Regions from separate parts of the Homo sapiens genome. Here all the other regions are linked to region 1. Evidence: fine-mapped expression QTL. A gene starts in region 1. Each other region holds a variant in brackets. All regions are shown on one strand. Distances are from middle to middle. Region 1 holds the start of LITAF (lipopolysaccharide induced TNF factor). Region 2 overlaps LITAF (lipopolysaccharide induced TNF factor). Region 3 has its middle 26 kb from the start of LITAF. Region 4 overlaps LITAF (lipopolysaccharide induced TNF factor).

Region 1 (8,041 bases):
TGCATTAGGATACAAAATTGTATGAACGCTGATGACAATTTCATAGAAAACAGGCACAAAGACAAAAGACAGAAGCCGCCCGATAAGGACAGCCAGTGGTAGTTGTTTCGTTCTATAAGATTATGCCTTTCTTCTTTATCTTCCACACTTTAATATTTTTTAATAAAAAATTTCAAACTATCAGTGCATCATCTAGGAATAACCTCATGGATTCAAGTTTAAGGCAAGACATCATTAAGCTCTTAAACTTACCTGAGGCACACTGTCAATTAAATCTAAGGCTCCATGAGCTAAATAGCTTAAATTCTCCAACATTATTTTCTCTGAAGCCTCCAGCTTTGGATCCTGGTATATAAACTCCTACCTACTGCGAGGTGAGCAGAGAATTACCATCACATAGACACCCTCCAGAATGGTTCCTTTCTTGTGTCCATGCCTTAAGCTCTATGAAATTACACAATTCTTCTACTGAAATAACCTGCAGCCAAGGGACAACTTCATTAGCTACAAAGCTGTTGTCACCTGTGTCCAGAGTGTCAATCAATACAGGCTCAAACAACAAGATGAAATTATGAGGACCCTGGAAAATGCCACTTGACCTCAAATAACAATTCTTAGGCAAGTAAACATCAATCAAATTCAGAACAGACCATGGGTGGCCAAACAGACCCGGGAGACGTCAAAAATATGTGTGCTAAAGAAACACAGAACTAAGGAAGTCTATTTACCTGATAGACCGCCTCACCCACGGGGCTATTTTCACTGCTGTAAAAGCGAAAACAAATAGAGGACAAGTCACAGTGCCAAGAATACAGGACTTCCTCTTGCAGATCCTCTTTTTTCCACCCTCACTGTAGCTCTGGGGAAATTCCTATTCAGTGGGAGAAGTTTAAGTCACAAAACGGCACCAGCCCATTCTCAAAGTGCTATTATACACCTCTGAGCAGTGAGGATGGGTAATGTCAGCAAAATATGCACTGTTTATTTTCTTGAAAATTAACTTGGGCTGGAAACGCCTTCCAGCTCCTTCCTCTCAGTGGATTTTCCATTTACTGTCTTCAACCACCTGGGCTTGTCTGTACCTCTTCCACAGCTCTACTGAGACCCTCCTGTTTGTCTGAACTATGTCCTCATGTTCCTTCTGCCACATGTGCTCAGGCCTCAGTTTTTCCATGAAACTTTCTCTAACTTAGCTGCCTCCTTTCCACTGTTCTCAAGCCCTTTCTGGAGTTACAAGGGCATTAGCAAGCACCAGCTTTTTCGCCGGTGTGTGTTTCTACTTTCTACCCATTGCGTAAACCCCTCAGGACCAGGAGCCATTCTTCTGCATCCTTTACACGGCAAGGGTAGCGCTTTATTTCTCAACAGCCCGCCCATAAAAGGAACGGAAGTAACAAAGGGAAATGTATTCCCCAAAGACAGTGAATTACACTTCAATCTACTATTTTAGAGACTTAAGAAATGGGCCGGGTGAGGTAGTTCACACCTGTAATCCCAGCATTTTGGGAGGCCAAGGCAGGTGGATCACTAGAGGTCAGAAGTTCGAAAACAGCCTGGCCAACATGGCAAAACTCTGTCTCTACTAAAAATGCAAAAATTACCTAAGCATGGTGGCACCCAACTGTAATCCCCGCTACTTGGGAGGTTGAGACACTAGAATTGCTTGAACTCAGGCAGGGGGTTGAGGTGGGGTGGGGAGGGTTAGAGGTTGCAGTGAGCCGAGATCGCACCACTGCACTCCAGCCTAGGCGACAGTGAGACTCTGTCTCAAAAAAAAAAAAAAAAAAGAAAGAAATTGATCCTACGTCTTAGATCAATCACCCAGTCACTTAATCTGTGAAAACATTACAAGATACTTTCTCAAATGTGAATAAATGCATCAATTATTCATGCCTTAAAGTAACAGGAAAGAGGGAGATGGGCCTCCCTCATGGTAGATTACAATTAAATGTTTCTTAGAGAGTTTGGTGCACATTTAGTTCCCAGAGCAAGGGCTGGTGGAGAAGAAAGCCAAGTGCAATATGGGTGTTACTCTATGCCAGGTAAAGCAAGTCACACGCCATCTAGATCCTGCTCCAACTGATAAAACCAAAACACTGGTGGAATTCCAGATACCAGCCTGCACTTCTCTCTGTAGGCATCTGGGTTAGTCCTAAATAGGAAGTCCTAAAAAGAGTCACTCTGAGAAGGCAGGGGGTGAGAGGGCAGATGAAGCAGCCAAGCACACATTAAGGCAAATCATGGCTTTCCTAAAGAGGACCCCAAGCTGGGCTTCAGACAGTCTTTGAACCAGCACCAGTGCACCAGGCCAAGGGGAGGGAGGCATCCTCTTTGGGAAGACTGGTAGGAGCTTGGAAGACCCCGTGGCTTCCACAAACTGTAGATTTCCCAGTGACCACTGCTCAGTCCAACAGCCAGTGACATCAGCTCCACTGTCGGGAAGTAGAAAACCAGTGAAGGTCCAACTAGCCTGGTCCCTGAAGCATGACTGGCCCTTCCAGAACATACACCTTTCCCCTATCACCTCCTCTCCCTGACCCCGAAGAGCTTCGGGCACACCACCAACTGACCACCTATCCACAGTGACCTGCAAACCAGAGCGGGGAGGGTATTTGCCTAGCTTGGCAGGGAGGGGCGAGATCCACTTCTGCCACCAGTCACCAGCTGGTCCCACCAGCACCTACCCAGCACCGGCGGTGGACGGTGAGCGGCGTCTGGGCCCAGAGCTGGGTGCCATCAGCAGTAAGAGGACCCCTGCGCTCGCGGGGTGCCCGCCTTACCCCGCGGGGAGGGGTCAGGCCTAGGGGCCACGGCCCGCTTCGCTCTCTGATTTTCACCTCCCCAGGGTCTCCCAGGGGCCTCGGGTGTCCTTCCCGGATCTTGCGCGAAGTCGCGGGGGCAGGGAGAGAAACGCGGGTACCCGCGCCCCTAGAAGTCAAATGTTTGGCAAATAGCATTTGGGAATTCGTTGGGGTTTTTTTGTTTGTTTTGGTTTTGTTTCTGAACCCCCGGGGGATATTTCTGGAAATCTCAACCTGAGTCACTAGAGAGAATCGCGCCTTTTTCTAAAAAGCCCAGGGGCCGTCCTCTCCGGGGAGGGGGACGCGGCGGGCCGCGAAGGGCGCTCGTTCGGGTGGGGGCCGGACGACCCCGCCACGCGCGATCGGGCCACTCTGGGACGCAGGAGCTGAACCCAACCGGAGACGCGGCCGGGACCAGCGCTGGGAGGCCGGACCCCGCCCCGGCCGGGCCCCCACGCCCTCCGCCGCGCCTCGATGCCCGCGACCCGACCCGCGCCCCCTGGCATCCCAGGAGGCCCCAGCCAAGGGCTCAGTGCCCGGGGCCCCCAGCAGGTGCTGGCGCCACCGGCCCCCCGCTGTCTCCCGCTGGTCCCCGCGCCCCGGCGTCCCCGCGCCGCACTCACCGCCGCCCGCGCCGCCTGTCGAGCCGGGAGGTCTGAGCTGGCCTCTCGGGCGCCCCGAGAAAAGGGCCGGGCGGCGGGGACGGGGGCGGGGGCTGGACCCGCCGGGGCGGAGCGCGGCCGGCTTGGGCTTCCGGCTTCTCCCGCCCCCGCGGCCCGCACCTGGGCCCCAGGCGAGACCACCGCCGGTTCCCCGCCTCACTCTGATCGCCCCCAGGCTCCATCCCACACCCGGCTCGCTCGCCACCCCAGAGCTTCCCAGGCTTACCCCCGAGACGCCTGGCGCGGACCTGGTGTCTCCCCCACTCTCCTATCCTGCCCCTGCCTCTCGGTGCCAGCCCCACCCGTCCGCCCCCGACAGCCTGGCCCTCCCTCCTGATTTGCCGCTCGCGGCTCTCCCCACTTTCCCCCCTCCCCGCGCCGCTCCACCACTTCCAGGCGGCGGGACCACCAACCTCGACCCCGGACCCGCGCTGGGGCGCTCCCGGCCCTCTGGAGGGCGGCCCTTCTCTTCCTGTAACTCTACAGACGCGTCCGGACAGACCAAGACACTCTCTGTGCCTTCGGGCATGTTACCCATCCTCTCTGAGCTCGGCTTCCTGTCTGCAAAATGGGCACAATAGCGGTCCTGTCTCCTAAGACCGACTGGGAGTGAACTGGGAAGATGGTAAAGTTTTTAGCACAGGATAGGTATTAGGTAAGGCTTATCAGCTGCCTGTCCGCTTTGTGCCCCCAGGGTGGTCCGTGCCGCCAGGTAGGCCTTTCTCAGCCATCACTGAAAGCAAGCTCTGGAAATCAGTAGCCCCATTTCACATCCGCCCCTAAATGGGTGCCATCTGCCCGTCTGCTTGGAGCCCCATCGGCCGGCTGCAGTGATAACAGCAGCAGCCTGGATCCAGCAGGCTCTCTGGGAAATCATTAGAGGGAATTAAGAAGCATGCCTGGCTTTCAGAGTACACAGAGTCAGGAGATGGGCAGAACCATGATGTGGCCATCCACAAACAAACGCCATTTGGACAGGGAGCTTCCGAGCCCCATGCTGGCAAAGACCTGGATCTTAGAACCCTCCGGTGCCCAAATCCCATGCCTTTACCCGAGGTCCTAAAGATAGTGAGGCCCAGATAGGGAGTGTGGCTTGTCCCGGGTCCCTCAGCAAAGTGTCCCCAGCCCCAAGTTCTTGCCACCTTGCGCCATGTCCACTGACGGGCCACCCTCAGCCGTGGACGAGTTACCAAGTTGGAAGGGATTTCAAAGTTCTCCCAAGCATAGGAGGTTCCCATGTAGATGTTATTAGTGTGGGCAACATTTTACTGCTTTTAAAATATGAAGGGGGCGGGTGCAGTGGCTCTTGCCTATAGTCTCAGGACTTTGGGAGGCCATGGCCAGAGGATCTCTTGAGCCCAGGAGTTCAAGGCCAGGCTGGACAACATAGTGAGACTCCATCTCTATAAAAATTTTTTTAATTAAAAGAATAATAATAAAGCGGTGGAGTGGTGGCATGTGCCAGCTACTCAGGAGGCTGAGGTGGGAGGATTCCTTGACCTCCGGAGGTTGAGGCTGTAGTGAGCTATAATCGAGCCACTGCACTGTAGCAAGCAAGCAACAAAGAAAGAAAGAGGGAAAGAGGGAAAAGAGAAAGAAAAAAAAAAGAAAGAAAAAGAAGAAAGAAAGAGAAAGAAAGAAAGGGAAAAGAAAGAGAAGGAAAGAAGGAAGGGAGGGAGGGAGGGAGAAGAGAAGAACAGGAAATTGGATTACACCCAACCTCTGCCATTCCTCCATTCTCAGGATGCAACCAAGGCTTGCAAAGGTACCAATTATTATACTGACATTAAGACAGAATATCACAGACCATTGCTAGGGAGACATAACACCTAGGGAAAATCTCTCAGAGATAACGTTCAAGAAACATCCCTGTATGAATGCTTTTCTTCCTTCCTTCCTTTCTGTCTCTCCCTCCCTCCCAACCTTTTCTCCTTCCTTCCTTCCTTCCTTCCTCCCTTCCTCCTTTCCTCCCTTCCTCGCTTCCTCCCTTCCTTCCTGTAAAAAGCAGTAGTAAGCCTGAATTTTCTTCTGTCCTTTACTGAATACTACCACATCTTCATTTGTTTTTCTTTCCCCAACTGCTGAGCAGCAACAGGAGCCAGCTTTGTGTTTTTATCCATCCTAAACACTTACCACGGCTGTGAGCTTGCAATTATTTATGGGGAGAGCTATAAGACTGTAACTCTTTTCTTTGATCCCCAAAAAACCACAGAGATTGAATTTCCAACCCAAGGCTTCCAACCAGGGGGTAAAAGTAAACTGGGCCACGTGATCATCTCAATAGACGGAAAAAGCATTTGAAGAAATCCAATAATGCTTTCATGATTAAAAAAATAATAATAAACTAGAAATAGAAGGGAACTTCCTCAACCTTAGGGCTTCTATGAAAATCCCAGAGCTAATGACACACTTAATGGTAAAAGACTGGAAGTTTTACCCCTAAGAACAGGAACAAGCCAAAGTGCCCACTCTGGCCACCTCTGTCCAACATTGTCCTGGAGGTTCTGGCCATTGCCATTAGGCAAGAAAAATAAAAGCATCCAGATTGAAAAGGATAAAGTGAAGCTATCTCTATTCACAGGTGATATGATCCTATATGTAAGAACCCTAAAGAATGTACTAAATACCTATTAGAGCTAATAAACCAGTTCAGCAAAGTTGTGGGATTTAAGATTAACATACAAAAATCAGTTGCTTTTTTTTTTTTTTTTTTTTCGAGACAGGGTCTCTGTCACCCAGGCTGCAGTACAGTGGCTCGATCACAGCTCACTGCAGCCTTGACCTCCTGAGCTCAGGCGATCCTCCCACCTCAGCCTCCTCAGTAGCTGGGACTACAGGCATGTACCACTGTGCCCAGCTAGTTTTTTTTTGTAATTTTTTGTAGAGATAGGGCTTTGCTATGTTGCCCAGACTGGTCTCAAACTCCTGGGCTCAAGCCATCCACCTGCCTGGGCCTCCCAAAGTGCTGGGATTACAGGTGTGAGGCACCACACCCAGCCAGTTGCATTTCTATATACTAGCAATGAGCAATCCAAAAATGAAATTAAGAAAATGGCTCCATTTACAATAGCCTCAAAAGGATAGAAGCTGGGTATGGTGGCACACACCTGTAGTCCCAGCTACTCAAGAGGCTGAGGCAGAAGGATCCCCTTGAGCATGAGAGTTTGAATCTAGCCTGGGCAACATAGCGAGACCCCATCTCTAAAAAAAAAAAAAAGAGAGAGAGAGAATGTAATACTTAGGAAAACGCTTAACTAAGGAAGTTCAAACAAGACCTATACACTGAAAACTACAAAACATTGCTGAAAGAAATTAAAGAAAACTAAATAAATGGAAAGACATTCATGGACCAGAAGATTTAATATAGTTAAAGTGGTATATCAGTCAGAAATCTTTCAAAGAAAGAGAGAGGAGATATATACATATATAGATGGTACCAGACTTAATGATGGTTCAATTATGATTTTTTGACTTTATGATGGTGATACACATTCAAAAGAAACCGTACTTCAAGTACCCTTACAACCATTCTGTTTTTAACTTTTAGTATAGTATTCAGTAAATTACATGAGATATTCAATACTTTGTGATAAAGTATTGAATTAAGTAAAGGAGACCGTCTCCTTTACCTGAAGTCAACTAAAATAAACCACATCTGCAAAATACTTTTACAGCAACATCTAGATTGGTGTTTAATTGAATAACTGGGTACTATAGGCTAGCCACGTTGATGTGTAAAAGTAATGATCACAAATGGCAATACTTCCCAAACTGATGTACGGGTCCAATGTAATCTCTGTTTTTGTTGTTGTTGTTTTGTGTTTTTGAGATAGAGTCTCGTTCTGTTGCCCAGGCTGGAGTGCAGTGGTACGATCTCGGCTCACCGCAAACTCTGCCTCCTGGTTTCAAGCGATTCTCCTGCCTCAGCCTCTCGAGTAGCTGGGACTACAGGTGTGCACCACCAAGCCTGGCTAATTTTTGTATTTTTAGTAGAGACAGAGTTTCATCGTGTTGGCCAGGCTGGTCTCGAACTCCTGGACTCAAGTGATCCACCTGCCTCGGCCTTCCAAATTGCTGGGCTTTCAAGTGTGAGCCACCGTGCCCGGCCCAGGTCCAATGTAATCTCTATCAAAATTCCAGCTGCCTTTTTTGGCAAAAATAGACAAGCTGATCCTAAAATTAATATGGAATTACAAGGGATTTCAAATAGCCAAAACAATCTTGAAAAATAACAAAGTTGGAGGATCCACTGTTTCTGTTTTTTACACTTTGTTTTTGAGACAGAGTCTTATTCTGTTGCCCATTCTGGGATGTAGTAGTGCCATCATAGCTCACTGCAGCCTCAAACTCCTGGGCTCAAGCGATCCCTCCCACCTCAGCCTCCAGAGTGGCTGGGACTACAGGTGCGCACCACCATGCCTAGCTAATTTTTAAATTTTTTGTATAGATGTGGTCTCACTATGTTGCCCAGGCTGGTATTGAACTCCTGGGCTCAAGTAGTCCTCCCACCTCCACCTCCCAAAGTGCTGGGATTACAGGTATGAGCCACTGCACCTGGCCCACACGTTCTGATTTTAA
Region 2 (8,041 bases), 32 kb before region 1:
ATTCCATCTTTCCCTGATTCCAAAGATAAAAAATTTGTTTTAATACAAATATCCAGAGGCAATGGACTTTTTTTTTTTTTAAGCATTTTCTGCCCACAGAATGAAAACAACAGCAGAGTCCTGTGGGCAAGAGGGGGAATCAGGTGCCCAGAAAGCTGTTTTGTCTCCTTCCTTCCTTATTTAACACATGACCTCAAGGAAGTTAACTAAACTCTCTGGGACTCTGAGCCTCTTATTGAAGTTAGGAAGAGAAATATTGTTCCTTCTCAACCTCAAGTCACCAAAGGACAATGTGGAGGAACGTGCCGGTTGCATGAGGCTCCTGAAACTCACAAACACCGTTTCCTTCAAGGAAAAGAATGGAGCCCCTTGGGGTTTTCTGAGTGGCTCACGTGGCCAGGTATAAGGAAGCTACTTTTACCTGCTTGGTGGGAAACAAAAAATTGATTGTGTTTCCTCAGATTTTTCTCCCAGAACAGAAACTGTTATCTCTTTAAACATAATACCTTTGGTGCAGACATAAAATTTATATAATTTCCCTGCATGGGCAATGGGAAAAATACTTCGGGTCATAAAAGGATAAGAAGTTTTGAAGCAATTCCTATGAAGAATTTTAATGTACAGATTCTTTAAAGCTTCCCTCGGGCTCGAGCAAAACATTATTATTTAGGTCATGAAATTCTAGAAGAAAAAGGAATCCCTGAGGATATTGCCCTGTACACAGCTGGAAGCAGCTGTGAAGCTTGTCCCTACATGCAGGGCGTGGTTTCAGCAGATAAGCAAGAAGAAAAGACGGAAGACCAATTTCTGGGGACGGATACGCTTAAGAGCAGCAGGGATGACTTGGCCTCCCAGGGGGCATTTTTGTTCAGAACACTGGGGAGCGTGGTGCTCCTAGCATTAAGCGGGTGGGGGCCAGGGATGCTATTCAATATCCTACAATGCACAGGACACCCCCTACAATAAAGAAATGTCTTGGGCCAGGCATGATGGCCCACACCTGTAATCCCAGCACTTTGGGAGGCTGAGGCGGGTGGACCACCTGAGGTCAGGAGTTCGAGACCAGCCTGGCCAACATGGTGAGACCCTATCTCTACTAAAAGTACAAAATATTAGCCGGGCCTGACGGTGCACACCTGTAATCCCAGCTACTCAGGAGGCTGAGGCAGGAGAATAGCTTGAACCTGGGAGGCGGAGGTTGCAGTGAGCCGGGATCGTGCTACTGCACTCCAGCCTGGGCAACAGAGTGAGAATCCATCACAAAAAAAGAAAGAAATGCCTTAGGCCAGGCACAGTGGCTCACACCTGTAACCCCAGCAGTTTGGGAGGCCAAGGTGGGCAGATCACCTGAGGTCAGGAGTTTGAGACCAGCCTGGCCAAGATGGTGAAATGCCAGCTCTACTAAAAATAAGCTGGGCGTGGTTGTGCACCCCTATAATCCCAGCTACACGGGACGCTAAGGCAGGAGAATCGTTTGAACCTGAGCAGTGGGGGTTACAGTGAGCCGAGATCGCCCCACTGTACTCCAGCCTGGGCGACAGAACCAGATTCCATCTCAAAAAAAAACAACACAAATGTCTGGCCCTGAATGTCAAGCATGGTGCAGTTGAGAACCCACCCCCGCCAGCACCCAGAGAGAAGGGCAGGATGGCTTGGGGCCAAGTGGGAGGCAGACTCACCCCAGCAGGCACAGGCTCCCGCAGGACAGCCAGGTCAGAGCACCGGCGTTATAGGACAGCTGACTCACGATCATCTTGTTGCAGGAAGGACAACACATTTGGATAGGGCGGTCCAAAAAGGTGATGGGGTGCTGCACGTAGACCGTCTGCACGGTAACTGATGAAAGGGAGAGGGACAAACACAGGTTGCTCAGGAAACAAGGCCAATAGCATTCACTACAGGACAAAGAGAGGAACGCAGGGATGCCAGCAAATATTATATTTGTACATTTGTGTTCATAGCATGCGTTCATCGTCTGGCTATCTATGAGAGCCAAAAGGGGAAGGAACACCAGTGTCCATCGACGGACCAATAAACTAACACAGCGAAGTTTATCCATCCACCAGAATATGATTCAGCCTCAAAAAGAAAGGAGGACCGGGCGCGGTAGCTCATGCCTGTAATCCCAACACTTTGGGAGGCCGAGGTGGGAGGACTGCTTGAGCCTAGGAGTTTGAGATCAGCCTAGGCAACATGACAAGACCTCATCTCTACAAAAAAATATAAAAATTAGCCCAGCGTGGGAGTACACGCCTGTAGTCCCAGCTACTCAGGAGGCTGAGGTGGGAGGATCAGTTGAGTCTGAGAGATTGAGGATGCAGTGAATCATGATTGCGCCACTGCTCTCCAGCCTGGACAACAGAGCGACGCTCAGTCCCAAAAACAAATAAATAAATTTTAACCAGCCTCACACTGTGCCTAGCAGCTCTTGATAAATAATCCACTCTCTTTACACAAACCCTTTGATAAACTCTGACAGCCAATGATAAGGGTAGAGTTTACCAAGCCAGGAAACGCAGGCCAACTCTGTAAGACAACAAGCTAGTGAACTGTGTTGATACAAGAAATGAAAATATAAAATAATGCTAGGAAGAAAAAGCTATGTGAAAACATGTTCGAACATTCTCAAGAATCAGAAGAGAATCCAGGCCGGGCACGGTGGCTCACACCTGTAATCCCAGCAAATCCCTTGGCTTTGGGAGGCCGAGGTGCGTGGATCACCAGAGGTCAGGAGTTCAAGACCAGCCTGGCCAACATGGTGAAACCCTGTTTCTAAAGACAAAAATTAGCCGGGCATGATGGCACGTGCCTGTAGTCCCAGCTACTTGGGAGGCTGAGGCAGGAGAATTGCTTGAACTTGGGAGGCAGAGGTTGCAGTGAGCCGAGATTATGCCACTGCACTCCAGCCTGGGCAACAGAACAAGACTCTACCTCAAAAAAAAAAAAAAAAAAAAAAAGAGAGAACCCAGGGTGATGAAAATCATCAAGCACTTCAGTTGTTAAGCTCATATTTTTGTTAAAGCAACTTCCTTCTGTTCCTTTTTACGTTAGAATGTCATTTATATAACAAATGAATTAGGGGGAAATTACTGCCTAGAGTTAACTGAACTTAGTAATACTCATAGAAAGACCCTCCTTCCAGAAAAGTAGTATTAAATCATACTTTAGCACTTA[C/T]GTGTAATTTTTTTTTGGCAGGGGGGACAAGGTCTTGTTGTGTTGCCCAGGCTGGAGTGCAGGGGTACAATCATAGCTCACTGCAGCCTCAACCTCCTGGGCTTAAGCAATCCTCCCACCTCAGCCTCCCAAGTAGCTGGGACTACAGGTACAAGCCATCACACTCAGCTAATTTTATTTTCATAGAGACAATGTCTCACTATGTCACTCAGGCTGGTTTGGAACTCCTGGCCTCAGGTGATCCTCCTGCCTCAGCCTCCTCAGTAGCTAGGATTACAGGCGCAAGCCACCACACCCTGTTCATACATTTTATTAAGTGTTTTTGGGGTTCAAGAATAAGTTATTTGGACCAGGCTCTGTGACTCATGCTGATAATTCTAACACTTTGGGAGGCCAAGGGAGGTGGGAAGATCGTTTGAGCTCAGGAGTTAAAGATCAGCCTGGAAAAACAGTGAGACCCGATTTACACAAAAATTTAAAAATTAGCCAGGTGTGGTGCTGTATGCCTGTAGTCTCAGCTATTCCAGAGACTGAAGTGGGAGGATCACTTGAGCCCAGGAGGTCCAGGCTATAGCGAGCCATGACTGCACCACTGCACTCCAACCTGGGCAACATGGTGAGACCCTGTCTCAAAAAAAAAAAAAAAGAAAAAGAAAAAGAAACTATTTATTGATCACAGGATGGTCTAAGAATCTAAAGTCATTATCTCATCCTCTTCCAGCTCAAAATAACTTGAACACAACAATAAGAGTTCACTTTTATCAAACGAGTACTCTGTATTTGGCACACACAACTTCCTCTCATGTTAACAACTCACTGATATTTATAAATAGGTACTTGATGAAACCTATTTTACAAATGGGGAAGCTGAGGCACAAGGAGGTTATGTGAACCCAGGCAGTCTGATTCACGGGCCCCCTCTCTGAGCTAAAGATTTCTTTCAGAACTACCTGTGATACTAAAGCAGTGACATACCAGGGCACCCTTGGGCGGAAGGAAGCACCAAAGGACAGGGACCATCTAGTTGCTCAAAAGCAGAAGAGCAACTTGCATTGAGGGTGAGCTGGTATGAAAACACAATCACACATTGCTCAGGACGGTTTCTTCTCCTCCCTATTCCTACCTCGGCCCTGGCCTCAGGGCAGAAGTTCTGCATCAGACCTCAGGAGGAAGTGTGCGGGCCCTTAAGACACAAACTCCCATTCTCAGAAGAAAGTTGGTTGTGCCTCCAAGAGATGTGCCAAAAGATTCGTATATGATGACCATGGGAAAGATCCTAAACCATACTTTATTACGGAAAAGCTGTGAGCCTCACCAACATGGAATCTAAAAGACTGCGTGTGGAATTTCAAGGTAAGGGGGTAAAACTGGAACGTACTGGCACTTCACTTAGACTCTTTGGCAGAGTCACTTCGGTCACTCTCCTGATTCCCAGGGTGGAGGGCCAAGGAATGGTAAGGGGGGCCTGGGAGGCCACACGTACTTGGATTGTTATTGGGGATGGGCGCTGGCTGGGTATAATACGAAGGAGGATTCATGCCCTTCCCATCAGGCCCCGTCACAAGCCCCGTAGTTGGCCCAGGCATGGGAGCTGGAGGTGTGGGGTAATAACTGTTAACAGCCACTGTCTCTTCATAGGATGGAGGTGCGGATGGTGCTGAGGAAGGCCCAGTGGCCGCCTGGTAAGGTCCTGGAACCGACATTTTACCTAAAACAGAAACAGAACATACCAGATAAGAAATTCAGTTGATCTCTCCCTCTCTTTTTCACCTAAGTCTTCAATTTTCTTTCTGGCAAACAGAAATTCTGAGAAAATGACTTCCATCCAGCTTTGTCCAAAAGCTAGGAAGAGGGTTAATGTCCCTTCAAGACCCCAGAATTAATCAAAAAGTAAATAATTACTACCCAAAATCACCAAAACCTGGAAAATCCAAAGTGGAAACATCAACCAAATAAGGGTCATTTCTTCTTCACATCTTAAACCATTACCAGACAATGACCTACGTACCTTCCATATCTGGTGTTTCTTCTTCGTTGTTTTTTTTTGTTTGTTTTTTTGTGGTTTTTTTGGTTTTTAAACCACTGTGGTTTTCACTAACTGTTTCAGGTAACGGAAAAGATAAAGGCATTCAAAAACCAACCACAAATTATCACAAATAGCAAAGGGGCCAGATGCCACAAAATGCACACTGTATGATGCTATTTAAATAAAGGTCAGAAATAGGCAAAATGAATCCATGGAGCGGTTACTCTTGGAAGAGGAAGAAGAATCTGGAAAGGGGTATGAGGGGGCCTTTGCGGGGGGCGGGTCCTGTTCTCTTTCTTCACCTGGGGGCTGGTTACAGAGGTATGTTCAGTCTGTAAAAATCTCAGTTGTACAATTAAAATGTATATACTTTTTTGTATGTGTGTTATAGTTTTGTTTTTTGTTTTGTTTTATTTTTTTGAGACAAGATCTGTCACCCAGGCTACAGTGCAGTGGTGTGATCTCAGCTCACTGCAGCCTCCACCACCCAGGCTCAGGTGATCTTCCTGCCTCAGCCTCCCAGGTAGCTGGGACTACAGGCATGTGCCCCCCCGCCCGGCTAATGTTTTCATTTTTTGTAGAGATGGGGGTCTCACTTTGCTATCTAGGCTGGTCTTGTACTCCTGGGGGCAAGTGAACCTCCCGCCTTGGCTTCCCAATGTGCTGGGATTAAAGGCATGAGCCACCGCGCCCAGCCTCTGTGTTATAGCTTTTTAAGAAGGAAATACACATAGACTCCAGTTCTCATTTTGAAAAATGAGCACCAGAGCAGCCAGGCACACATTTTCTTTTGTGAGGGCAAAGAAAGGATTTCCCTCCAGCCCTGGCAGAGCTGCTGCTCGCCTAGAATTACACCCTGCACCCAGAGTGTGCTCCTGTCTGATGTTCCATGATCCAGCAGCCATGGGGCAGCTGGAAGCAGACACAGTGCTGTTCTTTGTGTGGCTGTTTTTCTAACTGGGCAGGGTTCAGGCTGCCTTAGAAGAGCCATTCAAACCTGTCTCGGGAGAAATGGGAAATGAGGCTCCGGGGCAGCGAGCCACAACCACCACTCCCCTCTCCCGACACTGTCTGCCTCATTTTCTAGAACTCGTGGGAAGCCAAGGCAGCAATTAATCCCACTGCAGGGAGAAGGGTAGAGTCCTTCTCAGAAGCCCTGCCTCTAAACCAAGCCCCAAAGAGGAGACTTCTCTGGAGGAACCGAAGAAAGGGTATTCACCTCAAAGTGGAAACAGAGACCAGGTGCGGTGGCTCACCTGTAATCCCAGCACTCTGTGGAGCCGAGGTGGCAGGATAGCCTGAGCCCAGGATCTCAAGACTAACCTGGGCAACATGGTGAGACCCCCATCTCTAAAACAAAACAAAACAAAAGGGCTGGGTGCAGTGGCTCATGCCTGTAATCCCAGTACTTTGGGAGGTTGAGGCAGGAGGATCACTTGAGCCCAGGAATTCACCACCAGCCTGGGCAACATAGTGAGACCCTGTCTCTACAACGAATAAAAAAAGTAGCCAGGTGTAGTGGCACACACCTGTAATCCCAGCTACTTAGGAGGCTGAGGCAGGAGGATTGCTTAATCCTAGGAGGTTGAGGCTGCAGTGAGCCATGATCACTCCACTGCACTCCAGCCTGGGAAACAGAGCGAGACTCTGTCTCAAAAACAAACAAACGAAACAAAGTGGAATAGAGGCGGGGGAGTGAACGTGATAAAAAGAAAGTCAGTAAGTAAAGATAGGTTGGGGCTGCATTCTAGAAAACTTTGAAAGTCCCTTGGAGAACACGTGTTCAAGACTTCTTTCTATCAGAGTGCTGTCCAACAGAATCTTCTGTGAGGATGGAAATGCTCTGTATCTGCTGCCCAATATAGCAGCCACCAGTCACGTAAGGTTATTGGGCGTCTAAAATGTGGCTTGTGGCCGGGCACGGGGGCTCATGACTGCAATCCCAGCACTTTGGGAGGTCGAGGCAGTGGGATTACTTGAGCCCAGGAGTTCAAGACCAGCCTAGACAACATAGTGATACCCTCTCTCTACAAAATTTTAAAAATTAAAAAAATTAGCCAGGCATGGTGTTGCACACTTCTGGTCCCAGCTACCCAGGAGGCTGAGGTAGGAGGATCACTTGAGCCTAGCAGGTGGAGGCTACAGTGAGCCATGATCATGCCACTGCACTCTAGCCTGGGTGACAGAGCGACACTCTATGTCTAAAAGAAAAAAAGAAATGAGCTAGTGTGAGTGAAGAACTGAATTTTTTTTGTTTTAGCTTCTTTTTCATCTTTTTACTTGCCAATGAATTTTTACTTGTATTTAAGTTTAAGCAATTTAAATGTGAAAACTAACAATTCAATTATTGGGAAGCTTTTATGTAAGTCTGGGACAACTTGAATATATGAATCATTTTTTCAATGGTAAATTTGATGAACACTGAATATAGATCAAAATGTTTTTTGATAAAAATTTAGCATTCAATTTGGGATAGAATGTCAATGTAAAAATACACCCTGGGTTTCAAAACTTAGTAGGAAAAAATGAATGTAAAATATCTCATTAATAATTTCTTATATTGATATATTAAAATGACCACAGCTTAGATATATGAAGTTAAGTAAAATGTATTGTTAATTTCACCTGTTTCTTTGTACCTTTCAAAATGTGGCTACTAGGCCGGGCATGGTGGCTTACACCTGTCATCCCAGCACTTTGGGAGGCTGAGGCAGGAGGATGGCTTGAGCCCAGGCATTCTAGATCAGCCTGAGCAACATAGGGAGACACTGTCTCTACAAAAAAATTAAAAATTAGCCAGACATGGTGGTGCACCCCTGTGGTCCCAGCTACTTGGGAGGC
Region 3 (6,520 bases), 25 kb after region 1:
TGAGTTCAAGCGATTCTCCCGCCTCAGCCTCCTGAGTAGCTGGGGTTACAGGCGCCTGCCACCACACTCAGCTAATTTTTTTGTATTTTTAGTAGAGATGAGGTTTCACCATGTTGGCCAGGCTGGTCTTGAACTCCTGACCTCAAGTGATCCACCCGTCTCGGCCTCCCAAAGCGCTGGAATTACAGGCGTGAGCCACCGTGCCCGGCCTGAATGGTATGCTTTAAATGGGTGAATTGTCCGGTATGTAAATTACGTATCCAAAACACTCTTGGAAAAAAGAAAAAGGGATAAAGGGAGCAAAGGATTCAGGCTGCAGGACTGGCTGTGCCACTTCCCGGCTGCGTGACCGTGAGCAAGTTACTTCACCTCCCAGAGCCTCAGAGGCCCCCATCTGCTACGGTTGAGAGATGCCTGCTGTTCAAGGGACCGTAAACATTTGTCCCTGGCATGCCTCCTTCCTGCCCACTTCTCCCTCACACTCCAGAAGCCTCCAGAATGTCTGCTGCAGGAATGGGGCAATTCCTTGAAATCCAAACGGAAAAGACCAGGCTTTCCTGGCCAGTGATGGAAACAAATTTTCACTGTCGTCCAAGGCCTGGATGCTGAAATCACACCCCACCTTCTCTCTCCAGGCCCAGAGGTCCCCGCCTGTCATTTACAGTTTCAAGGCACCAAATGACCCCAATGATTTGCAAAGGATTCCCTATGGCCACCAATCTCTGCAGCCTTCAATCCTCCCCACCCTAGTCCCCACTGCTCCTGATGGCTTTGGGGGGCCTCAGGGAAGCACAGAGAAGCTGGGACTCACCCTGCAAAATAATCCAGCCCAGGAGGACTGGGTGGTGGGGGGACCCCATAAAGAAGCAAGTGTGTGAGCAGCTCCTCCGCACACAATGGCCCCTCAGAAACCTGTCCCAGGGGAAAACAGGGGATCTCTATCGGCAATCCCTAAGAAAGAAATGTCTGTCTTCTTTCAGGACCTGCCCCCGCAGGCTCCAGGCCAAGAATGTCCGGCAAGGGGTCTATTAAGTTTCTAAAATTATGCCTAGGTTGGAGGGTTGGTGGGGGTGAGGATCGGGAAAGGACGTGGCGGTCGGGCAGGCAGGAAATCTTTATTCTGGTCCTTCAAGCCCCAGCCTGCACGCTGGGCAGTGGGAAGGGAGTGGAGAGTCCCTCCAGCAGATATCAGGATGGCTTGAGAATCAAAAGCTCTGTGCACATGGCTTGGCAGCTCAGTTGTCTTCAGACATTGCCACAGTGCCTTCCCAGAGTGCTCAGGTTTTCCCCCGAGCAAGGGAACAATGGGATGGAGCCCAACTTGAGCAGTAAATAAGAGGAAAAAAACCATCGCCCAGTGGTCATAATCTAGAAGTGGAAACAGGGTTGCTGTGTTGGGTTGTGCAGGTTGCGCACTGCACAAATGCAGGGGGCACTCTTCTCAAGTATGGAGTCATGCTTTGTACAACTCAGACAACCATTCAAGGCAACCTGTAATGTACCAGAAGGGGGACCAGCTGGCTCATGGGAGCAAGCCTTCACTCTTGGGTGGGGCTGGGGAAATGTGAATCAGTGGCCAATTTGTACATGGAAGACGGAACAAGACCTCACGACAGTGTCAGTCCTAATTGAAACACTTAGGACCCCTCTCCCCCAGCTACCGAAATCTAAGGGGTAGGAGGAGGGAGGAAAAGTCAAGGAGAAGGCGCCTAAAAATCTATGAGTCGTCCTACCTCCCAGATACGGTTTCCAGAAAAAAATACAGTACATGGCTAGGCATGGTGGCTCATGTCTCAGCACTTTGGGAGGCTGAAGCAGGAGGATCACTTGAGGCCAGGAGTTCAAGACCAGCCTAGGCAAAAATAGTGAGACAAAAAAAAAAATTTTTAATTAGCCAGGCGTGGTGGCACAAGCCTGTAGTCCCAGCAACTCGGGAGGCTGAGCTGGGAGGATGAATTGAGCCCAGGAGTTCGAGGCTGCAATGAGCCACGATCACCCCCCTACACTCCAGCCTGGGCAACAGAACGAGACCCTGTCTGCAAAACATATATATAGGATGCCCAGTTAAACTCAAATGTCAGAGAAACAGTGAATACTTTTTTAGCAAGTCCTAAATACAGCATGGGATATACTTATACTAAAAAATCATTTGTTGTTTCTCTGACATTTGAATTTAACCAGGCATCCTGCATTTTTATTTACTAAATCTAGCAGCCTTTCCCCTAGAGGACATCCCTATAACAATACTTTTTACCACCTACTATTGCCTGGAAATGGCTACTAAATTGCAGCCAATTGGGAGCAAATTTCCTCCAAGCATTTTTCTATCTTTTTTTTCTTTCTTTCTTTTCTTTTTCTTTTTCTTTTTTTTTTTTTTAAGACAGAGTCTCCCTCTGTCACCCAGGCTGGAGTGCAGTGGTGCGATCTCGCCTCACTGCAATCTCCACCTCTCGGGTTCAAGTGATTCTCCTGCCTCAGCCTCCTGAGTAGCTGGGATTACAGGTGTGCGCCACCATGCCTGGATAGTTTTTTTGTATTTTTAGTAGAAACAGGGTTTCACCATGTTGTCCAGGCTGGTCTCAAACTCCTGACCTCAGGTGATTCGCCCACCTCGGCCTCCCAAAGTGCTGGGATGACAGGTGTGAGCCGCTGCGCCTGGCCCTCCCATTTCGACTGTTGTGGGGTCCCACAGGATATGGAGTGTGACAACAACCCCCATCCAACGCAACTTAATGGCTTCCTTCTTCCTTCTTCCCCTCGGGGCTCGGAAATCACCACTCGCCTGGCAAAGAGGGTTATGTGGGTGCCCACACAGCCATGTCACTGAGAGGGTGGAAACAGGGTCTCAAAGTCCAAGGATCTCCTGGCACTGCCCACACCGCCAAAGCTCAGGACAGCCAACCATGTGCCAGGTTTGCTCAGCCCAGATCTAAAACGGGGGTCTCTCCAGTGAGTCAGACCAGGTCATTTCCCAGCCCAGGGACTCTGTGACTCCTGGGAGCCGCAGCAGGCTTTGGCTGCACCGTCCTCATCATTCTTGTGAAAAGGGGCCACCTGGGGGGCAGCCTGGAGGGTTGGTGAAGAGGTGTCTCCCTCCCTGGCTTGGCCTGGGCTCTCTGGAAGGCAGGTGAAGAATGAGGAAGGAAGGGCCTTATTGGGCAACTCCCAGCAGGTTTCTGTGGGAACGGCTGTCTGACCTCGTGTGGGTCACCTGCGGTTAGAGCAAACTGCACTGCATGCGGCCAGCGGGCGGCCAGGGCCGGCCCAGCTCAGGACGCTCACGTGCACAGAGAACCTGGATGGAAAGTTAACAAGGCCCAGGCAGGAGCCCTCGCAGAGACAGCAGACCTTCCCACCCCACTCCCAGCCCAGAACTGGCCACCCACTTCCCCACCCCATTCTCCCCTGACATCTCTGTTTGTCCACGTCCTTGAGAAGGGCGGAGGGACGAGGACAGACTGAAAAGAGATGTTTGGAGGATGAGTCCGCCCTCTTGGGGAATGATTTCACTGTGGAACCAAGCTTGGTTACACCAGAAGCTCTTGGGCACCATCTCAGGGACTCCCATGGCTCCTGAAGACTTGTGGGAACCCTGTGTCCCCCTAGAATCTTGACCTCCCAACCCTGCAAAAGCTGTCATCTTGGGGCACAGCCGATGGCCTGGGTGCCTCTTGATGGGCAAGGCCAGCCATTCAGGTGCTTCACTCTAGGTTTTTCTTTGGATTTTTTTTTATTTGTTTTTTGGGGTTTGTTTTAGATGGAGTTTCGCTCTGTTGCCCAGGCTGGAGTGCAGTGGTACAATGTCGACTCACTGTAACCTCCATCTCCTGGGTTCAAGCGATTCTCCTGCCTCATCCTCCCGAGTAGCTGGGACTACAGGCACCTACCACCACGCCTGGCTAGTTTTTGTATTTTTAGTAGAGATGGGGTTTCACCATGTTGACCAGGCTGGTCTCGAACGCCTGACCTCAAGATCACTCTAGTTTTTGTTTCCACTTCTGGATCCCCATGGGATGGAGAGAGACGGGACACTCGCATTGACAGAGAGACCAGACCTCCTGGGTCACCTGGGGGAATAAGCAATGCAGCCAGCTGCCAGGTCCCAGGGCTGCCTTCTCCTGACCATCTGGGCAATTCAGACACAGCTGGGTCTGAGGTGCCAGAGTGTGTTGTTCCGCCTGTTTAGACCTGCCCCACCTCGAAGACATCGGTGATTCACAATCTTCCCTAGAACGGACAACTCCTGGAGGGTGGGGCCCCTGCTGATTCAAACTGGGCTCCTATGAAAGCTCCCAGAGGGTGAGGGCAGTCAGGGAAGGCTTCCAGGAGGAAGTGGCTCTTGTTGAAGGCTAAGCCAGAGTTAGGTGGGAGAGGAGCAGGAAAGGTGTCCTTACAGGGAGCACAGCCGGACGGAGGGTGTGGCGTGTGCCGGCTAGGCAGTTCACACTGGTGGAACCGAGGGCACAGAGGTGG[C/T]TGGGGCAAAGCCCAGACAGAAAGGACATCTCAGAAATGAGGATCTGTACTCCGAGAGCCGGCCTCACCCTGCCACATGTTGTCAGATGACCGGGCGGGCCACTTCTCTCGCTGAATGTTTATTTCCTTATCTCTAAAACGGAACTGACAGTTGAGATCAACGCCTGTGTTCTGTGGGGTCCCTCTGCTTCCTGGCAGGTCCTGAGATTTGGACACTTGCACATGACTCATTCATTCCCAGCAACACCAGTCAACAGTGGAGCCGTTGTGCCCATTGTACAGACGGGGCAGCTGAGGCTTGTGCAGGCTCAGAAGGATGTCCTAGTCTCTCTCACTCTCCTTTCTCCCTCCTACGGATGCTGTGACAAATGACCACAAACTAGGTGGCTTAAAACAACAGAAACTGATTGTCACAGTTCTGGAGGCTAGAAGTCTGAAATCAAGATGTCAGCGGGCTGGTCCTTCTGGAGGCCTTCTCCTTCTCCTTCTCCTTCTTCTTTCCTCTTCTTTCTTTTTCTTTTCTTTTTTTTTTTTTTTTCTTGAGACAGAGTCTCACTCTGTCACCCAGGCTGGAGTGCAGTGGCACAATCTTGGCTCACTGCAACCTCCACCTCCCAGGTTCAAGCAATTTTCCTGCCTCAGCCTCCCAAGTAGCTGGGATTATAGGCACACACCACCAGGCCCGGCTAATTTTTGTATTTTTAGTAGAGATGGGGTTTCACCATGTTGGCCAGGCTGGTCTCGAACTCCTGACCTCAAGTGACCTGCCTGCCTTGGCCTCCCAAAGTGCTGGGATTACAGGCATGAGCCACTGTGCCCAGGCTTTTTCTGGTTTTTTTTTAAGATGGGGTCTTACTCTGTCACCCAGACTGGAATGCAATGGCACAACTTCAGCTCACTGCAACCTCCACCTCCAGGGCTCGAGATCCTCCCATCTTGGCCTTCCAGAGTGCTGGAATCACAAGTATGAATCAGTGTGCCCGGACTGTTTTCACCTTTCAGCTGTTACAAATATCTTCTTACTTCCTCTGATATGCCTACTAGAAAATTTAAACTTGCCCAGTGGCATGCATTACCCTGCAGCTGGACCAGCTCTGTTCTAGACGGCAGGCAGTTCTAACGGCAGGGAGTCAGTTCAGTGATTGTCATGACAGCGAATGCATGGCTTCCAGGACCCTGTGGCCCGCTGTCAGATGGGGCCGGGTCTGAGTGCCTCACTCACAGCTGCTTCTCCAGCACCCAGCCCAGCAGCTGGCACGGGGTGGATGACCAGTCGGTACACACTGGGAGAATGAATGAATGAACAAAGGAAGGAAGGAGAGACCAAGCTGGGGCTCTAGGAGAAAACGAGGCAGGAAAGTCCCAGGGGACAGTGGCTGAGGAAAGAACAGAGATCCCAGGAAGAAAAGCGACACCCAGAGCCCCATCTACCCTGGGGTGTAAATGGCATGGGCAACAACTCAGAGGAAAAGTAAAGACCTTGGGTGCGGTGGCTCACGCCTGTAATCCCAGCACCTTGGGAGGCTGAGGCAGGTGGATCACCTGAGGTCAGGAGTTCAAGACCAGCCTGGTCAACATGGCGAAACCCCGTCTCTACTAAAAATACAAAAATTAGCCTGGCATGGTGGTGCATGCCTGTAATCCCACCTACTCAGGAGGCTGAGGCAGGAGAATCGCTTGAACCTGGGAGGTGGAGGTTGCGGTGAGCCGAGATCACACCATTGCACTGCAGCCGGGGCAAAAAGAGTGAAACTCCGTCTCAATAAATAAATAAATAGCCAGGTGTGGTGGTGCATGCCTGTAATCCCAGCTACTCAGGAGGTGGAGGTTGCAGTGAACCGAGATTGCACCACTGCACTCCAGCCTGGGAGACAGAGTGAGACTATGTCTTTAAAAATAAATAAATAACTAAAATAAAATAATAAAAAAAGAAAAGTGAAGACCTATGTGGTATAATAAAAAGTATCTGCTTGGTCTTTGTTCCCTGTCACTGGTTCCTGGCACAGAGCTGCCAAAGCCCTTGGACCCTCCTCAGTGATTAGAGTAT
Region 4 (8,041 bases), 40 kb before region 1:
CACACACCACCACACCCAACTAATTTTATTTATTTATTTATTTATTTTGAGACAGAGTTTCGCTCTTGTTGCCCAGGCTGGAGTGCGATGGCGTGATCTTAGCTCACCACAACCTCCGCCTCCCGGGTTCAAGCGATTCTCCTGCCTCAGCCTCCCGAGTAGCTGGGATTACAGGCATGCACCACCATGCCCGGCTAATTTTGTGTTTTTAGTAGAGACGGGATTTCTCCATGTTGCTCAGGCTGATCTCAAACTCCCGACTGCAGGTGATCTATCCGCCTTGGCCTCCCAAAGTGTTGGGATTACAGGCATGAGCCACCACGCTCAAACTTAATTTTTAATTTTGTAGAGACAAGGTCTCACTATGTTGCCCAGGCTGGTCTTTAATTCCTGGGCTCCAGCAATCCTCCTGCCTTAGCCTCCCCAAAAGGCATGAAGCCACCGCATCCAGCCTCCCCCAGGGGATTCTAAGGTGCAGCGTGGGGTCTGAGGACAGTGGCCCTGGCCCTGTCGTACAGGATTCAGTAAGAATCTTTCCCATCTGGAATCATCCACCAGCAGCTGGACATAGCCGTGATTGACAAGGTCGGGAGGCCAGGCATGGTCCCCTCCACACTGCATAACAATGGAAGGAACAATCATTCCTACCCTTTAGTCCCTGAGATCAGTGAGGCAACAGTCATTTGTCTTCCCCCTGGGGGTCGTTGGCCTGAAAGTCCTTGCAGGACTCCAGGAGGACTGAAGGCTTCCAGGCCAGTGCAGCTCCGGGCAGCTTGGCCCCTTCCCCTTACGCTCCATGCACCCAGAGACACATACACATGTGGATGCACGCTCACACGGGGCCAGACACTCATAGACAGCTACGGAGACACCCGGAGCCCAGCTCACACACATGACAGACACCTAGGCCCTCCAACAAACACCCACAGACACACCCACACATACACAGACACACTCCTACATATCCCCCCATACACAGCCCCCAACACACACACACACACACACCTATAGAGACACCCAGACCACCCCCTCACATATACACATGTGGACACTATCTGCTCACTGATAAAGGCCTGAACGGATTTAAGACTTTAAGACAGAAGGCAGGCAGAACATAAAATGAGGAGGCCATTAAGTTAGACAAACAACTAATGCAGGGAAAGGCAAACCAATGTAACCACAAAGAAAACCTTCAGTGAAAATGGGAAGGCCAAGCACAGTGGCTCACGCCTGTAATCCCAGCACTTTGGGAGGCCAAGGCAGGAGGATCACTTAAGCCCAGGAGTTTGAGACCAGTCTGGGCAATATAGAAGACCCCAACTCTACACAAAATTTAAAAATTAGCTGAGTGTAGTGGCGTGTGCCTGTAATCCCAGCTACGCAGGAGGCTGAGGCAAGCGGATGGCTTGAACCCAGGACTTCCGAGACCAGCCTGAGCAACACAGTGAGACACTGTCTCTACAAAAAATAAGCCAGGCGTGGTGACATGCACTTGTAGTCCCAGCTACTCAGGAGGCTGAGGCAGGAGAATCGCTTGAACCCGAGAGGTGGAGGTTGCAGTGAGCCGAGATCATGCCACTGCACTCCAGCCTGGGTGACAAGAGTGAGACTTGGTCTCAATAAATGAATGAATGAATGAATGAATGAATGAACCATACAGGTAGAATTACCCTATAACCCAGCAATTGCATTCCTAGGTATACACCCAAGGGAACTGAAAACATATGTCCACACAGAAGCCTGTAAACAAATGTTCTCCGCGGCATTATTCACAATAGCCAAAAGGTAGAAACCACAGACGTTCATCGAGGGATGAGTGGATTAACCAATCGTGGTCTATCCACACAACGGAGTATGATTCACCCACAAAAAGGAATGAACCACTGGTCCATGCTACCATGTGGATGAACTTTGAAAATGTGATGCTCAGCAAAAGACGCCAGATGCAAAGATCACATATTCTATGATTCCATGGATATAGTATACCCACTATAGGTAAATCCATAGACAGAATGCAGACTGACGGGTGCCAGGGGTTGTGGAGAGGAGGGAATGGGGAGTGACTGCTAATGGGTTTGGGGTATTATTTTGGGCTGATGAAAATGTTTTGGAACCAGGTAGAAGTGATGGTTACATAGCACTGTGAATGTACTCAAAGCCACCTAATTATGTACTTTAACATTAGGTGAATTTTAGATGGAAAGAAGGAAGGAGAGAAGAGGAAGGGGGCAGAAATGTTGGCAGGGCAGCGCTAAGCCCACTGTTCACTCTTCCTAGGCAGGGTCGTGTTTTCTACCCCAATTGTACAATGGCTGCAACACAGCAGGAGTTAATCAATGATAAACAATGTCAAATCCACAGACACCAACCAGAGGCTTCCAGATGTTACCCTTCACACTTACTTTACACCGTGACCCCTCCCCCAAACACACACATCTATATATCCAAGTTTTACAAATAATACTCAGATCTATTATGAGTAATGCACTGTGACTTTTGATGAACCCATTAAGTTGATTTTGCCCATTTGGGAAACCGGCCAAGATCACTTAAGAGGCGCTGCAGTACTAAGAGCTTTAAGAATACTTAAATGCTGAGGCCAGGCACAGTGGCTCACATCTGTAATCCTAGCACTTTGGGAGGCCGAGGCAGGCGGATCACTTGAGGTCAGAGGCTTGAGACCAGCCTGGCCAACACGGCGAAACCCTGTCTCTACTAAAAATACAAAAATTAGCCTGGCGTGAGGGAGCGCACCTGTAGTCCCAGCTACTCAGGAGGCTGAGGCAGGAGAATCACTTGAGCCCTGGAGGAGGAGGTTGTAGTGAGCCAAGATTGTGCCACTGCACTCCAGCCTGGGCAACAGAGCGAGACTCCATCTCAAAAAAAAAAAAAAAAAAAAAAAAAAAGGAACAGAAAGGGAAAGAAAAGGAGAAAAGGTATTTAATTGGGAGAACATCTTTTTAATACTGCAGAGATCAGTTACAAGGTGGTGAGTTACATGCAGTAGACTCTATACGTGGTGGTGAGCTATTTATTTATTTATTTATTCATTTTAATCTGAGCTCCAGAATCTTATTTAAAATTCTTAGATTAAAAAAAAAAAAAAAGGCCAGGCACAGTGGCTCATGCCTGTAGTAATCCCAGGACTTTGGGAGGCCGAAGTGGGCAGGTCAGGAGTTCAAGACCAGCCTTGTTAACATGGCAAAACCTCATCTCTACTAAATATACAAAAATTAGCTGAGCACGGTGGCAGGCACCTGTAATCCCAGCTACTCGGGAGGCTGAGGCAGGAGAATCGCTTGAACCCAGGAGGTGGAGGCTGCAGTGAGCTGAGATCATGCCATTGCACTCTAGTCTGGGCGACATAGCGAGGCTCCCTCTCAAAAAAATAAAAAGCAAAACTATTCTTGATGTCTCTTTCATGGCCCTTGCTAGATCTACTTCCAATTCACTCATGTGCCTGCAAAAAAACAGGCGACTCACTGTAAACATTTGAGTCATACAGGGAGGAGAGGACCAAGGAACCAAAAGGCAAATCAGAATTCTGCAAGTAAAATTCCAACGTCTAGATTTACTCCTAACAGAAATCTTGAGCCCAGAAAGTCAGAGAAGGATTTTTAACATCCCAAACACGACAGGCTCTCACTGGGGAGAAAACTGAGGCCAAATGGTGTGCATATATGAAGCCATGTTTATAAATAGTTCAGTATCCAACAGAAGGGTTCTCGTTAGCAACTGGGAAGTCAGTTGTCCCAGAGAAAACATTTTCACGGGTAACACTGTGGTCAGCAAAGAATCCATCATATGCTTAAGTCTGGCTTCAAGAGATGCAGTAGCTGAATGATTTTGTTAAGCCACAAACCAACACTTCTTAGAAGGCCACCTCGCCTAGATGGACATAACAGAATATAAGATATACAGTCACTTTTGGTTTCAGATTGGTAAAATTCCTCTTTGCGGTCCAAGTAGGTAGGTATAAAGCCCTTTCATTAATTGAATGTGAACCAGTGTTTGCAAGAGACTCTCAAGTCCCCACCAAACAGTGGCAGAACAAAAGAGCCTTTTAATTTGATATGTAAGTCCATACTTCGAACAGTAAAATGGAATGTCCAATGAACACTTCACACTCCAGGCATCTGACATGAAAGTTCCGCATAAGACATGTTTTTACGATCCTGAAATAGGGCTCTTGTTTTGAAGACTTTGCATATGTAATTAATAATAGCTTGAGATCATGTACATGCCACCATCTGAGCCAAACTGCTAAATATGCATGGCCCCGAAACTACACAATCAAGATCTGGAAAGCAGCAGTTTTTCAAGACTGTAATTTAGGGTTTAAATGACAATTAAGCCACACCAAGATGACATTATTTCCTTGCATCTAGCAAAATGAAGCTGTATCATCAGGTAGCAAAGGACGGGGGAAGGCGGCATCCATATTCCT[G/A]ACATGTTACAATACCCTCCTTTTAGCATCTCACAAAGCATGTTTTGTTCAGAGAATGAATGGGGACAGTTCTCTTTTGTGCATTTTATTAAAACTTGAAAGCTATGGCTTGCCGCCATCAATGACGCCTATTGGGTTCCAATAGCCTCATGTTCAAATCTGACTCGTTAGCAAATCCACCCAACTCAACATCGGTCATCTTGACATTGCAGGATATTCAGCAAGTCTGAAGTTTTTAATCGGGAAGGATTTTCTACCGTTACTGAACAAATAAAGGTTCTTTGTAGCAATGGCTGGAAATGCAACATGAGCCCTTTCTTCACACCAAAAGAACTCATAAATAGTTCACCGGGTGAACCAAAGACTTTATTTTTCAAAAGCAGGTAACACCAAAGTACTATGTGGTATCCATATTCGTTGCAAAAATGATAATTACTGGAATTTTCCAAACATCAAATGAAGGGGGATCAATGGTTACCACTATCGTTTTCAACCAATATACAGATGTTCGCTCAAGGTCTAGGTTTTATTTCTACATAGTAGTATTCACATGAGTTCCCTATTCTGAAGTATTATCAAAACGAGGACCCTTGAAGGTCGAGCCCAGCTTTGTCTTGACTTCAAAGATGACACAGCAGCCAACCTAGAATCCTGGCTTGCTGCTTGAGTCCTAGAAATCATGTCTTCTCATGTTTTACAACAAGCTGTGTCTCTGAAAACTAAAATCAGACTTTAGATTCCTCTGAAACAGTTCTGGTTCCCAAGCATCCGCACCATGGTACCCAGACATGCTCAAAATGTGCTTTCCCTTATCTTTCAAAACCCACCACCAGGAAACCAAAACGGACCCCACTCTGAGAGTTCCATGATGAAGGTGTTTAAGAATCACATTAACCCCAAGTAAAGGCAGTAGATGAAATTATCCATTTCTTTTTCTTTTTTTTTTTTTTAAGTGAGACTACATTGGCAAATGGGAAAATGACACCAATCATTTGATTACAGAAAATGGTTTTATAAATCCTCCTCTTGAAATTATGTTCAGGCCCAGCATGGTAGCTTATGCCTGCAATCCCAGCACTTCGGGAGGCCAAGGCAGAAGGATCGCTTGAGCCCAGGAGTTCGACACCAGCCTGGGCAACATAGTAAGACCCCATCTCTGTTTTTTTTTAAAAAAAAGAAATTCTGTTCAAAAGTATTTCAGACCAAAAGGAGGTCATAAAAACTGTTCATATAATTACTCTATGAGAAAAAAATCCCTGTATGGAAAGGGGCACTGAAGATCTGGCACAGAGAAACAAGGGGAGACAGGGCAGTGATAAGATCCAGCCCTATTTTTCTAGCATGCATTTACGACCTTGTGGATATGTCTGTACTGGGTGTTAATAGCCCCCTCCTTGTATTTAAAAAAAAAATTAAGAAATTAAAGTGAATCTGTGTGCTAATGAAGTCTGCAGTTACAGAATCTCAAAGCCAAGCCTGTAAAGTCTGTAAGGCAAGATCTTTGTCATCAGGGACGGGAAGAGACGGATAAGATAATGGTAGGCACTAAAGGCTGGTTCAGCCGAGCTCTGGGCAGAACAGCCTCAAAAATAAGGCAACTGTGGCTTCTCAGTTTGAGACTGCCACCAGAAAGGCCCATGGAAGCAGGAAAAAAGAGCCACTGATGGCAGATCACAGGAAGATATTCGGATAGGGCAATGATCACAGTTAGATGGCAGGACTCAGGGTCTCAGGGAGGCAGGAAACCGTGGAACTGACACTCAAGGGGAATGTCTTTGCAAGTCCTATGCACGACTCCAAGCAGCAATTTCTGGGGTTTGGAGATTTGTTAGTTTTGCGACGTATTCCCCCCAAAAGAAGACATGAAGGTGGGCCCCCTGGAGAGGTGAGACCACCAGGGCAGAACCTCCACCAGGCGTGAAGCTGGATGAGAGGTGGAAAGGACTTCCTGCGGCACCCGGCTCCCTCCACGTCTGGCTGAGTCCTACAAACGCTTGTAGGTGCCCAGGAGAGCTCTGCAGTTGGGACAGTAATGGTCCACGTCCTGCAGGGCATCCACGCAGAAGGGGATGAAGCAGCAGCCCGCTATGCACCTGGGAGGAGAGAGAGACACACGGAGCGCGTTACTGATCACAACAGGGTGAACACTGGCTGCCAAAACCATGTTCATGTCCTTCTTTGTAAAAAGGGTCTTTGCCAGTATAATTAGGAATTTTGAGATGGGATCATCTTGGATTATCCAGGCGGACCCCTAAAACCCAATGACCTTAGAAGAAGAGGAGAGGACACACAGAGATACAGAGAGGGCAGAAGGAAATGTGAAGACAGAGGCAGAAGCTGGAGTGATGAGGCCATAAGCCAAGGACACCTGGACCTACTAGAAGCTGGAGGAGGCAAAAAATGATTCTCCCTGAAGCCTTAGGAGGGAGCGTGGCCCTGCTGACATTTTAGTTTTTGGTTTTGTTTTGTTTTGTTTTTGAGATGGAGTCTCGCTCTGTCGCCCAGGGTTCAAGCAATTCTCCCTCCTCCTGGGTTCAAGCAATTCTCCTGCCTCAGCCTCCTGAGTAGCTGGGATTGCAGGCGCATGCCACCAGGCCCAGCTAATTTTTTTATTATTAGGAGAGTTGGGGTTTCACCGTGTTGGCCAGGCTGGTCTCAAACTCCTGACCTCAAGTGATCCACCCGCCTTGGCCTCCCCAAGTGCTGGGATTACAGGCGAGAGCCACCACACCCGGCCCCTGCTGACATTTTGATTTTGCACTTCTGGCCTCTAGAATTGTGAGAGTTAATATCTGTTGTTTTAAACACTAGGTGTGTTGTAATTTGTGATGACACCCCTAGGAAATTAACATGCCAGCCAATGCCAAGGCTCCTCCTACAGACAGAGCCCCTTTGAGTATTATTTTCAAATCTGGGGTCATTTGGGAGTCTTTCAAAGTCTTAGATGGGCTTGGTGAACTTTTTTTGCAAAGGGACAGATAGTAGATCTTTTAGTCTTTTTGTTGCTGTGTTTTGTTTGTTTTTGTAGAGATGGGGTCTTGCTATGTTGCACAGGCTGGTCTTGAACTGCTGGCCTCAAGTGATCCTTCCACCTCCGCCTCCCAAATTGCTGGGATTACAGGTGGAAGCCACCACACACCCGGCCACATACTTTCATCCTGATGAGCCATGGCGTCTCTGTTGCAACTGCTCAACTCTGCCCTTGGAATGAGAAGACAGCCACAGAGAATCCAAAAACCAACAGGCGTGGCTGTGTTCCCGTAAAACTTAAAACAGGCGCCTGGCTCCAGGGTCGTTTTGCCAACCCCCGTCTTACTGATCTCTTTTCCATATAGACAGGCTGCTTCTTACAGCAACCAAGTAGAGTTCCCCAAATAATGCCTCTTAACCTACATAATCCACCTTTGGCACACACAGGCAGGAACCTCAGACCGCCTGACAACCAATGTTTGCCAAAAATGGAGTTAAAACTCAACCCTTCACAGGAAGACGCTGGTTTACATAAAGCAGAATTTGGAAATATTCTGATGAGGAAATTATCTCATGAAAGAAATTTCCTCCTATTGCCTAAGCTTTCCAGAGCTCAAATAAGGG

Evidence for each region. PIP is the estimated chance that this variant, and not a neighbour inherited with it, causes the effect.
Region 2: its variant is the best candidate, but not a certain one, in a credible set for the expression of LITAF in whole blood (INTERVAL, PIP 0.60).
Region 3: its variant is the best candidate, but not a certain one, in a credible set for the expression of LITAF in whole blood (INTERVAL, PIP 0.74).
Region 4: its variant is the best candidate, but not a certain one, in a credible set for the expression of LITAF in whole blood (TOPMed, PIP 0.79).

Annotation. Positions count from the first base shown.
Region 1 is chr16:11,583,462-11,591,502 of GRCh38, forward strand. LITAF (lipopolysaccharide induced TNF factor) reads right to left here and starts at 3,458. Exons shown (of 4, transcript NM_001136472.2): 1 at 3,425-3,458. RefSeq lists an enhancer at 2,212-2,321 and silencers at 3,222-3,301, 3,332-3,811.
Region 2 is chr16:11,551,854-11,559,894 of GRCh38, forward strand. LITAF (lipopolysaccharide induced TNF factor) reads right to left here. Exons shown (of 4, transcript NM_001136472.2): 2 at 4,658-4,882; 3 at 1,680-1,836. The coding sequence starts at 4,877. Among named protein-coding and RNA genes, the nearest start is that of LITAF, 31 kb to the right of the region's middle. The variant C/T (reference allele first, on the strand shown) is at 3,175.
Region 3 is chr16:11,609,304-11,615,823 of GRCh38, forward strand. It overlaps a transcript of LITAF not described here. Among named protein-coding and RNA genes, the nearest start is that of LITAF, 26 kb to the left of the region's middle. RefSeq lists enhancers at 4,473-4,522, 4,490-4,784, 4,683-4,892, 5,028-5,635, 5,636-6,243 and a silencer at 5,707-5,880. The variant C/T (reference allele first, on the strand shown) is at 4,474.
Region 4 is chr16:11,543,206-11,551,246 of GRCh38, forward strand. It overlaps LITAF (lipopolysaccharide induced TNF factor), which reads right to left. Exons shown (of 4, transcript NM_001136472.2): 4 at 4,517-6,540. The coding sequence ends at 6,432. Among named protein-coding and RNA genes, the nearest start is that of LITAF, 40 kb to the right of the region's middle. RefSeq lists an enhancer at 349-1,164. The variant G/A (reference allele first, on the strand shown) is at 4,448.